Homo sapiens: one gene and its partners. The protein of the gene in region 1 purifies or fractionates together with the protein of each later gene. This does not show direct contact. Each region holds a gene or a part of one and is shown on either strand. Other genes may lie near its edges.

Region 1 (3,653 bases):
TCTGCCTCCTGAGGTTAGGATCCCTCCTGAGCTGGGATTACAGGTGTGCGCTACCATGCCTGGCTAATTTTTGTATTTTTAGTAGAGACAGGCTTTCACCATGTTGGTCAGGCTGGTCTAGAACTCCTGACCTCATGGTCCACCCACTTTGGCTTTCCAAAGTGCTGGGATTACAGGCATGAGCCACTGCACCCAGCCTGTTGCCATTTCTTTTGGTGGTCATATTAAAAAAGTAATTGCCAAGACCAACGTCGAGATTTTTCCTTATGTTTTTTTTCTAGGAGTTTTGTGCTTTTTGTTTTTCTTTTCTTTTCTTTCTTTCTTTTTTTTTGAGGCAGATTCTCGCTCTGTTGCCCAGGCTGGAGTGCAGCGGCACGATCTTGGCTCACTGCAACCTCCACCTCCAAGGTTCAAGCGATTTGCCTGCCTCAGCTGCCTGAGTAGCTGGGATTACAGGCGCACACCACCACATCTGGCTAATTTTTATATTTTCAGTAGAGATGGGGTTTCATCATGTTGGCCAGGTTGGTCTCGAACTCCTGACCTCAGGTAATCCACCCACCTTGGCCTCCCAAAGTGCTGGGATTACATGTGTGAGCCACCGCATCCGGCCTGAGTTATGCTTTCAATGTATTTCTTACATTTCAGTTTTTAATCACTTTCCAGTTAATTTTTGTGTATGGTATAAGACAAGGGTACAATTTCATTCTTTTGCATGTGGATATCCAGGTTTTCCAGTGCCATTTATTGAAGACTATCCCTACCTCAGAGTTTTGTTTGTTTGTTTGTTTGTTTGTTGTTTTGAGACAGGATCTCACTCTGTTGGCCAGGCTGGAGTGCAGTGGCACCATCTCCACTCACTGCAGCCTCCACCTCCTGGGTTCAAGTGATTCTCCCACCTCAGCCTCCTGAGTAGCTGGGACTACAGGCACACATGCCTGGCTATTTTTTGTATTTTTTTTTTTTTTTTTTTTTGAGACGGAGTCTCGCTCTGTCGCCCAGGCCAGACTGCGGACTGCAGTGGCGCAATCTCGGCTCACTGCAAGCTCCGCCTCCCGGGTTCACGCCATTCTCTTGCCTCAGCCTCCAGAGTAGCTGGGACTACGGGCACCTGCCACCACGCCCAGCTAATTTTTTGTATTTTTAGTAGAAACGGGGTTTCACCATAGTCAGGATGGTCTCGATCTCCTGACCTCGTGATCCGCCCACTTTGGCCTCCTAAAGTGCTGAGATTATAGGCGTGAGCCACCACTCCCAGCGTGTTAAGAGTTATCTCAAAAAAAAAAAAAAATTATCGGCCAGGCGTGGTGGCTCACGCCTGTAATCCCAACACTTTGGGAGGCCAAGGCGGGCAGATCACGAGGTCAGGAGATCGAGACCATCCTGGCTAACACAGTGAAACCCCGTCTCTACTAAAAAAATACAAAAAAATTAGTTGGGTGTGGTGGCAGGCGCCTGTAGTCCCAGCTATTTGGGAGGCTGAGGCAGAAGAATGGCGTGAACCTGGGAGGCGGAGCTTGCAGTGAGCCGAGATCATGCCACTGCTCTCCAGCCTGGACGACAGAGCGAGACTCTGTCTCAAAAAAAAAAAAAAGGAACACTCATTTACTGTCTTTATTACTGATTTTTCTTTTTGCTTATGTTGGATTACAAGTCTGCATTTTTATTTTTTTTCTTAACATAATTCTATTCCTTTAAACTTCCAGGAATTCTTCATCTTTGCCTATGACCTTTCTGTGTGTGTCTATATGTTGTGGATTTATTTCTAACATTTACATTCTGTCCTTTCAGTGGGATTTTGGTGGGGAGAATATGTCATTGTTTGGACTCATTTTGCCATCATGAACTATAAGTTGCAGTTTGTTTAGTGTTACATAATACTTCAGAATTGTTGAATGACAGTGAATTTAATTAAACAGTATAGGGTTTGTAATTTAATATACAGGGATTCTGCCCCTAAATATTTGAGTTATCTGAAGCAGGTTTCTTAATTATTCAAAGTATTGATATCCTTATCTGCAAAATGAGGAATAAGTAAATAAATAAAGGGAATAATCATATCTGTCTCATAAGTTCGTCACAAGCATTATTTGAGATAATACATGTAAAGCTCTTAGTATAGAACTTGGTATACAGTGAATATACTCAGTAAATGTAATTTGTTAAGTAGTGACTATTCAAAATAGTTATTTCAAAAACAAATCAAGCCGAGTGCGGTGGCTCATGCCCATGATCCCAGCACTTTGGGAGGCCGAAGCGGGTGGATCACCCAAGGTCAGGAGTTTGAGACCAGCCTGACCAACATGGCGAAACCCCATCTCTACTAAAAATACAAAAATTAGCTGGGGATGGTGGCAGGCGCCTGTAATACCAGCTACTCGAGAGGCTGAGTCAGGAGAATCACTTGAACCCAGGAGGCAGAGGTTGCACTCCAGCCTGGGTGACAGAGTAAGACTCAATCTAAAAAACAACAAAACAGAAAAACAAGTAGCTTTTTCAGAAAGCCTTTTAGAAGAGATATGAGTAAACAGATGCTAAGTGGCTGGCTAAATGATACCACAACTCTTGAATCAAAACTGATTCAGATTAAAAAAACCTCTTAACACATTCTTTCCTATCAATGTAGTTAGGACTAAGAGTCATGTAGCAGTAGTAAACCTGTCCTGTAATATATTTCTCTTAGGATTGGTTTGATAGTTGTATCATAATTGCATTATTTATAACATTAATTTATTAATGTATTCATTAATTAACCTAAGTCCTTTAGTAGTTTTCAGAATATTTTTCTTAAATTGTTTCCTGTGCTAATTCGAATGTTAACATGCTAATTCAGAGTTTGTTGCCATTTGTATCCTGACAGTGTATTAATGTTTATACTTGCAAGAGTGAAATATTTTATTTCTTATTACAGCGGAATGGCCAAAGACTATGACGGGTCTTCCTAGCACATCAGGGACAACTGCCAGTGTGGTCATCATTCGGGGCATGAAGATGTATGTAGCTCACGTAGGTGACTCAGGGGTGGTTCTTGGAATTCAGGATGACCCGAAGGATGACTTTGTCAGAGCTGTGGAGGTGACACAGGACCATAAGCCAGAACTTCCCAAGGAAAGAGAACGAATCGAAGGACTTGGTGGGAGGTAACATTCTGTCGTTTTCTCTTTCCTCTTTTGGTTCTATTTAGTCCTTTTATGCTTTACTAATGAAATTGACCTACTACTGTCCCTTTTACTGAAGTTACTTTCTTAGTATTACAGGTTTTTTAGTTTGTCTGATGTAATACTCATGTATGTATGTTCATATTTTTCTCATTACTATGAATTGACTTTTATTTCTGATAATGACTCTAATAGGAAATAATATTTCAGTGAGCCCCAAGGAAACAATTCAAGGTTTTACTGAAAACCTTTCAGATGACTTTCAGAATCTAGACGGAGCAGCTCTTGGAGTTCCAGAGTAGAACACTTTGAATCTGGCTGGGGGAAAAAGATTAAGTTAGAATTAACCTTCAGCTTTTTTCATTGATTTCAGATTTACTGCAAACCTTTCCAGTTATTGTTTTCTTTGTTTGAACTTAGCGTTTCAATGTGTAAGTAATTTGTAAACTAGGAACTGAAATTGATTTCAATTTTATATTTTTATGATTCAAACTT
Region 2 (3,653 bases), on another chromosome or scaffold:
TGCCAGGCTAACTTTTTTGTATTTTTTTTTAGTAGAGATGGGGTTTCATTATGTTGGCCAGGCTTGTCTTGAACTCCTGACCTCGTGATCCACCCACCTCGGCCTCCCAAGGTGCTGGGATTACAGGTGTGAGCCACTGCACCAAGCCAAATGTGTCTATCTTTATTACAATTACACCCAGCCTTCATTTGACCAAATGAGTCTTTACCATACCCACCAATTCTGCAACTTCCTTTTTCAACTTCCCAGTCCATCCTGAACAGCATGGCAGATCAATCCAACTATAGCTCCCTAATCCCTATTGGTGCCCAGGATGACAGTATATGAATATGTGCTGACTCTACTTTGTAAGTCCCCTGACAAATGAGTACAGCTTGGTTTCAGGTTTTGCCACTACAATCAAGGTCACAGTGAACGTCTTCACCCAATCTTGGCAAACTTTGGAGAGCACAGCCATGGGGAATGTTCCTCACCAGGGGATTACTGCCATTCAGCAACTTTTTTTGAACTATAAATACCTTATCAGCCTGAGTCAGGTACTCCAGTGGCCAGCTTTAAGGGAAGGCTTTCCTGGAAACAGCACCCCAGACGGTGCAGTGCCATCCTCGCCATGTGGCATGGCTGAGCACACCCAGACTGATCACACAGCACTAGGCTTTTAATGCACTTCAGCTCTGCCACTCACAGCAGATGGCTGGAAAGGCCCCGCCACACACCCAAAGACCATCACATGGACTGATCACCCTAAGTGACATTCAGGAAATCCAGATTCCCATCAGGACCCCACAACTTCCTTGCCCTGGAGGCGTCTCACTCTGTCACCTGAGCTGGAGGACAGTGGCACAATCTCAGCTCAGTACAGACTCAACCTCCCGGGCTCAAGCAATCCTCCCACCCCAGCCTCCCAAGTAGCTGGGATACACCACCACACCTAGCTGATTTATTTATTTTTTCCAGAGATGGGTTGGTTTTTTTGTTGGTTTTTTTTTTTTGAGACAGAGCCTCACTCTGTCACCCAGGCTGGAGTGCAGTAGCGTGATCTTGGCTCACTGCAACCTCTGCCTCCCGGGTTCAAGAGATTCTCCTGCCTCAGCCTCCCCAGTAGCTGATATTACAGGTGCTCGCCACCATGCCCGCCCAGGTAATTTTTTTGTATTTTTAGTACAGACGGCGTTTCACCATGTTGATCAGGCTGATCTCAAACTCCCGACCTCACATGATCCACCTGCCTCAGCCTCCCAGAGTGCTGGGATTACAGGCGTGAGCCACTGCACCCAGCCCATTTTCAGGTCTGAAAGTGGCTCTTGGCCAAAGTAACTGGACTCTGACCAGCCACACATGGAGGCCACTGCTCCTAGGACAAGCAGCAAATGATCACAGCTGACAAGAGTTTGGACGATCACCCTCGTAGCATGCACAGCCCACACAGGCACACCGGCATCACCCTCGTTCTCCAGACGTGAGGATGTCTGCCAACCCACCCCTGCAGAATCACCGCTAGGGTAGACACTGAGGCAAGTGCTTGATGTGGGGAAACTTAGCTGGTCTCTGAGGCAACCCCTACCACCCTACACACAAGGAAAAGAAGGCATGTTACATGCACTGTCACTGACACACGGACACTGCTTACATACTTCCAGGTGGAAATAAGCTTCAGAGGAGCAGGGAGAAAACCAACCTGTGTGCATGTGCACATGTGTACGTGTTTCAAAGAGGAGATGACAGATGTGTATGTGCACAGGAACTTTCTGGAAGACTTCACAGGAAAACTTTTCTATTTTTTAAATTTATTTAGAGACACGATCTTGCTGTCGCCCAGGCTGCAGTGCAGTGGTGTCACCATGGCTCACTGCAGCCTCAACTTCCCAGGCTCAAGCCATCCTCCCACCTCAGCCTCCTGAATAGTTGGGAATAGAGGTATGAGCTGCTGCGCCTGGCTACAGGAAACTTTACAAAGGCTGCTTCTGGAGGGTTAGCTGGGAATGGGGATGAGGAAATTTTTTTTTTTTTTTGACAGAGTCTCCCTCTGTCGCCCAGGCTGGAGTGCAGTGGCGCAATCGCAGCTCACTGCAACCTCTGCCGCACGGGTTCAAGCGATTCTCCTGCCTCAGTCTCCCAAGTAGCTGGGATTGCAGGCGTATGTCACCAAAACTGGCTAATTTTTGTATTTTTAGTGGAGATGGGGTTTCACCATGATGGCCAGGCTGGTCTCGAACTCCTTACCTCAAGTGATCCACCCACCCCGGCCTCTCAAAGTTCAGGAATCACAGGCATGAGCCATCGCGCCCAGCCAGGGTTGAGGAAATTTTACAATGTTTTATCTGTTTCTAGACTGGGTGATAAGGGCGTATGACAAAAGAGATTAGAAAAAGCTCCTTCCGGCCAGGCGCAGTGGCTCATGCCTGTAATCCCAGGTGAGGCAGGCAGATCACCTGAGGTCAGGGGTTTGAGACCAGCCTGGCCAACATGGTGAAATCCCGTCTCTACTAAAAATACAAAAATTAGCTGAGCAGGGTGGCGCATAATTGTAATTCCAGCTACTCGGGAGGCTGAGGTAGGAGAATAGCTTGAATCCAGGAGGCGGAAGTTGCAGTGAGCTGAGATAGCACGACTGCAGTCCACTCTGGGCGAGAGAGTGAGACTCCATCTCAAAAAAAAAAAAAGAAAAAAGAAAAAGCTCCTTCCTTTCCTGACTGTCCTGTCTCTCAGGGGCCCCACTTTTCATTTGAAGCCTCTGTGGTTTGTCACCATGAGTCCATAGGTGTCTACAATTCAGGAAAGAAACTGGCCCCACTTCTGCCAGCAGCAGATTCCTTCAGAGCAGAGCCAGGAGAAATTCAGGCCTCAGCAGAGACTCCAGGGTCAGCGATCACACAGGCAACCCCTCCCTTAAGCTGCAGTGAGAACCTGAGTCCTGCCTACAAGAAGAGGGAAGAGCTGCCCCTTAGGGCTCCCAGATTCCCAAATAACTCACACACACGGCCAAGGGTGAGTCCGGCCCAGTAGCCACTTACCTGGCAGAAAGACTTCATCTTGTCCAGAACCTTGTTGACCTCTGGCATCACATCCTTGCCGTCTACCAGGATGGGTGTGTTTGACCGGTTCCGCAGAGCCACGTGCAGCACGGCTCGACCCTGGGGATTACGGTCAGGATATAAAGACTGCCCCCCCCAACCCCAGGCAGCCATGCTCCCAGCTGGGCATGGTGCCATAGCTCGGCCCTCTATCCACTAGACAGGCAGGCCCTGAGGTCTCTGTTAGCACCATAACCTTGTTCCAAGAACCCACTGTATGCTTAGAGGAGTAGGAGCTCCCCAAGGACTTATGTGCTGCAGACAGTCAGGAGGAGAGGAGGGGACCCATATATGCCTAGGACAGGCCCCGAAGGCCTGCCAGAGATGCTCAGGGCATGAACAGTGAGAGAAAAGAGGAACAGTGAGCAAAGGCAGAGAATGGCAACAATACATGTCAGAAACAAGCAATAAATGCTTTCAGAGGCCGGGCGCCATGGCTCACGCCTGTAATCCCGGAACTCTGGGAGGCCATGGCAGGTGGATAACTTGAGGTCATGAATTCGAGACCAGCCTGGCCAACATGGTGACATCCTGTCTCTACTAAAAATACAAAAATCAGCCAGGTGGGGGTGGCACACA
Region 3 (3,653 bases), on another chromosome or scaffold:
GCCACTGCACTCCAGCCTGGGCGACAGAGCAAGACTCTGTCTCAAAAAAAAAAAAAAAAAAAAAAATACAAAAATTAGCTGGGCACGGCGCGCACGCCTGTAGTCCCAGCTACTCGGGAGGCTGAGGGAGGAGAATCACTTGAACCTGGGAGGCGGAGGTTGCAGTGTGCCGAGATGGCGCCACTGCACTCCTGCCTCGCAACACAGCGAGGCTCCGTCTCAAAAAAAATCAACAACAAAAAACCTGGGTGAGAAATATAATTATTCTCTATTTTATATATTTCTATATCCACATTCTATCATATAAAATTGAATTTCTATCTGGGTCCGCTTGATTAAAAGGGCAAAAAACTTTCCGATAATGTTGAAATCTTTGTTTCAATAGTTCCAAGGACTGATCTGTAACTGAGAACAAATTGTTTGTTGTAGAAAACTGGTCACTTAAAACTATGAAATACGCTTGTCACAGGAAGCTGATTTTACCCATTGACCCAATCATCACAACCTCACTTTAATTGAACTTGAATTCAATCAGTATATAAAGGACCATGCAGATTTTAGAAACAAAGGCCAAATAACTTCTCTGTTAGAATTTATTCTTAAGAGGGAAAGAAGTTCCCCCAATACGTTAGCTTGTGATAGAACTCAGAAACTTGATCGATACTATGTCTTACCTAAGTCATTGTTTTTTGTTATAGCATTAGCTGCTCTGGTTCGTGGTCCCTGCTGTGTAAACTGATATCCAAATTTAAGGATATTTGTATTTTCCTCAAGCATCTTGGCCATTTCCAATTCTACAGCTGTCCCCAACTGCTGCCTCTGGAGTAATTAGAAAAAAAGAACAATATTAATAAACTAGATCAAAATACTTTTCAAGGTAAATTAAGACATTCAGGCACATGCTAATTCTTTGATCTCTTTAAATGTTCCCAATTCCTACAACATATACATAGTTCAGTAGTTCCAAGTACTGATTTGTAACTGAGAACAAATTGTTTGTTGTAGAAAACTGGTCACTTAAAGCTATGAAATGTTTGTCACAGGAAGGGGATTTTACCCATTGACCCAATCATCACCACAGCCTCACTGGAACTTTATACACACACACACACACACACACACACACACACACACACACTAAACTTTTTAAAGTTCAGTAATATGATCATATAGACATCAAAAAAGTGTGAATTACTATAATGACATATCACTTCATACCCACTAGGATAAGTATAATAAAAAAGATAGATAATAACAAGTGTTGGCAAGAATGTGGAAAAATGGGGACATTGCTGAGAGGAATGTAAAATGGTACAGCTACTGTGGAAAACTGGCTGCTGCTCAAAAAGTTAAACATAGAGTTACCATGTGACCCAGCAATACACTCCTAGCTATATACTGAAGAGAAATGAAAATCTATGTCCATGTTAGAGTTTGTAATGAATGTTCACAGCAGCATTATTTCTAGTGGCCCGTATGTGGACACACCCCAAATGGAATAGAATATTATTCAGTCATAAAAGAATGAGGTCCTGATGTATGCTACAATACAGATGAACCTCCAGAACATTATGCCAGGTGAAAGAAGCCAGGCACAAAAAGATCAAATATTGTTTGATTCCACAGATATAAGCTGTCCAGAATAGGCAAATCCTAAGAAACAGAAAGTGGATGAGTGATTGCCAGAGCCTGGTGAGAGGGGTGAATGGGGAGTGACTGCTAATGGGTATGGGGTTTCTTTTTGGGGTAATGAAAATGTTCTGGAATTAGTGGTAATGGCTGCAAAACTCTACAAATATACTAAAAACCATTTAGCTGTATACTTTAAGAAAATGAATTTTACTGTATGTAATTATATCTCAATAAAAAAATGAAAAACATGGATTATGAAGCACTGGGTTAAATTTTAAGACATAATCCTCTTTTCCACCTTCATAGTTTACAAAATGTATTTACTTTGAAGGACTGAAGGAGACATTTAACAAATATTTTTTCAAATAAATGGAGTTATTTTTTCAAATAAAAAAATTAATAGCTACTCTGGATGGAAACATTTCTAACATGTATCTCTCTGCCTTTTACAAAAACCCTACAATGTGGACCTTGCCAGCACAGAGCTGAAAAATTGGAAGGTGGACTAGGTCACATGTAAGAGTCCTCTCAGTTCAAACTAGATAGCCATCTAAATTCTCTTAAAATGATCTAGGGAGAGTATACACCTTTACATTGTATACACTGTTATATACACTGAGTTAATATTCTAGATACCCCAAATGTCAGCTCTCCTTTCAGCCCAGCATCTTCCAACAGGGATCCCTGACAGCCCGCCTCCCATCCCCATCCTGAGTCGCCAAGCCCTACACAGCAGCGTGGGCTGTAGCTTCCTCGACGTTATTATTGTAGAACATTGACCTGATTGTCAATCTTGAGCTCTGCCAGGGTTTCATTATCTCTTAACGCATCAATCAGTGCCAGAATCCCAACTCCCGTGATAAAGTTGGACTCCACATTTAAGCTCTTCAAAGTTTTGTTCACTTTCAGCATTTCTGCAAAAGCCTAGAAATTAGAGAAAATATTAAGAGATTAAAATTTGATACAGTACCTACTACATATTGTACATGCCATAAATAAATACATTAATTAACTGCCTTAATGTTTGTCATTAGTTGTTTCAGTTTGACACAGTAGCCCATAGCTCTCACATGTACAGTTGTCCCTCAGTATTTGTTGGGGGTTGGTTCCAGGACCATCTGCAGATACCAAAATCTTCAGATGCTCAAGTGCCTTATAGAAAATGGCATAGTATTTGCATATAACCTTCACACATGCTCCTGTATACTTTTCATTACCTCTAGGTTACTTAATATACCTAATACAATGCCTACACATCACTTCATTTTTGTGGATTCAACATAGTACCTGGCATACAGCAAATTCAGATTTTGCTTTTGGAAATTCATAGAATTTTTTTCCAAATATTTTTGATCTGAAGTTGGTTGAACCCATGGATGACTGTATCTACTTTTCTTTCTTTTTTTTTTTTTTGAGACAGGGTCTTGCCCTGTCACCCAGGCTGGAGTGCAGTGGCAGGATCACAGCTCACTGCAACCTCTGCCTCCTGGGCTCAATTGATCTTCCCACCTCAGCTTCCTGAGTAGCTGAGACTACAGTTGTGTGCCACCATGCCCGGCTAATTTTTGTATTTTTTGTAGAGATGGGGTTTCACCATGTTGCCCAGGCTGGTCTCAAACTCCTGGGCTCAAGCAATCCACCCACCTCGGCTTCCCCAAGTGCTGGGATTACAGGTGTGAGCCACTACACCTGGCCTGTACCTATTTTTCATATGTACCCAGTCATAATCTTTTGATTTTTTGGTCACATGTAATTCCCCGTTGGTGACATTCTCTACTCCTCATTCCCTACTTCATGCTTCTTTCTTCTGTCTCTCTCACTCTTTCAGTTTCTGTGTTAGACCAACTTCATCAATGTCGCTGTAACATCTTTTCTTATTTGGGTCTTGCTGTAGCTGGATCATGTGAAGCCAAAATGAGGGTAAATTATGTACTAATTTCCAAGGCAGGGGCCAAAAGAAATGGTCAAGGCAGAAGGCCAGAAAAGAACACAGATAACCAGAACCAGAAGAGCACAAAGGC

Evidence for each region.
Region 2: the proteins of PPM1D (region 1) and GPI purify together in Homo sapiens (affinity purification with mass spectrometry; one large-scale study listed by BioGRID and IntAct). This does not show direct contact.
Region 3: the proteins of PPM1D (region 1) and TMOD3 purify together in Homo sapiens (affinity purification with mass spectrometry; one large-scale study listed by BioGRID and IntAct). This does not show direct contact.

What each region holds. Positions count from the first base shown.
Region 1 is NC_000017.11:60,620,610-60,624,262, forward strand, and holds part of PPM1D (protein phosphatase 1D), read left to right. Parts: intron 1-2,911; coding exon 2,912-3,140; intron 3,141-3,653. UniProt on the Homo sapiens protein: Involved in the negative regulation of p53 expression. Required for the relief of p53-dependent checkpoint mediated cell cycle arrest.
Region 2 is NC_000019.10:34,368,064-34,371,716, reverse strand, and holds part of GPI (glucose-6-phosphate isomerase), read right to left. Parts: intron 3,135-3,653; coding exon 3,015-3,134; intron 1-3,014. UniProt on the Homo sapiens protein: In the cytoplasm, catalyzes the conversion of glucose-6-phosphate to fructose-6-phosphate, the second step in glycolysis, and the reverse reaction during gluconeogenesis.
Region 3 is NC_000015.10:51,899,058-51,902,710, reverse strand, and holds part of TMOD3 (tropomodulin-3), read right to left. Parts: intron 2,557-3,653; coding exon 2,413-2,556; intron 820-2,412; coding exon 675-819; intron 1-674. UniProt on the Homo sapiens protein: Blocks the elongation and depolymerization of the actin filaments at the pointed end. The Tmod/TM complex contributes to the formation of the short actin protofilament, which in turn defines the geometry of the membrane skeleton.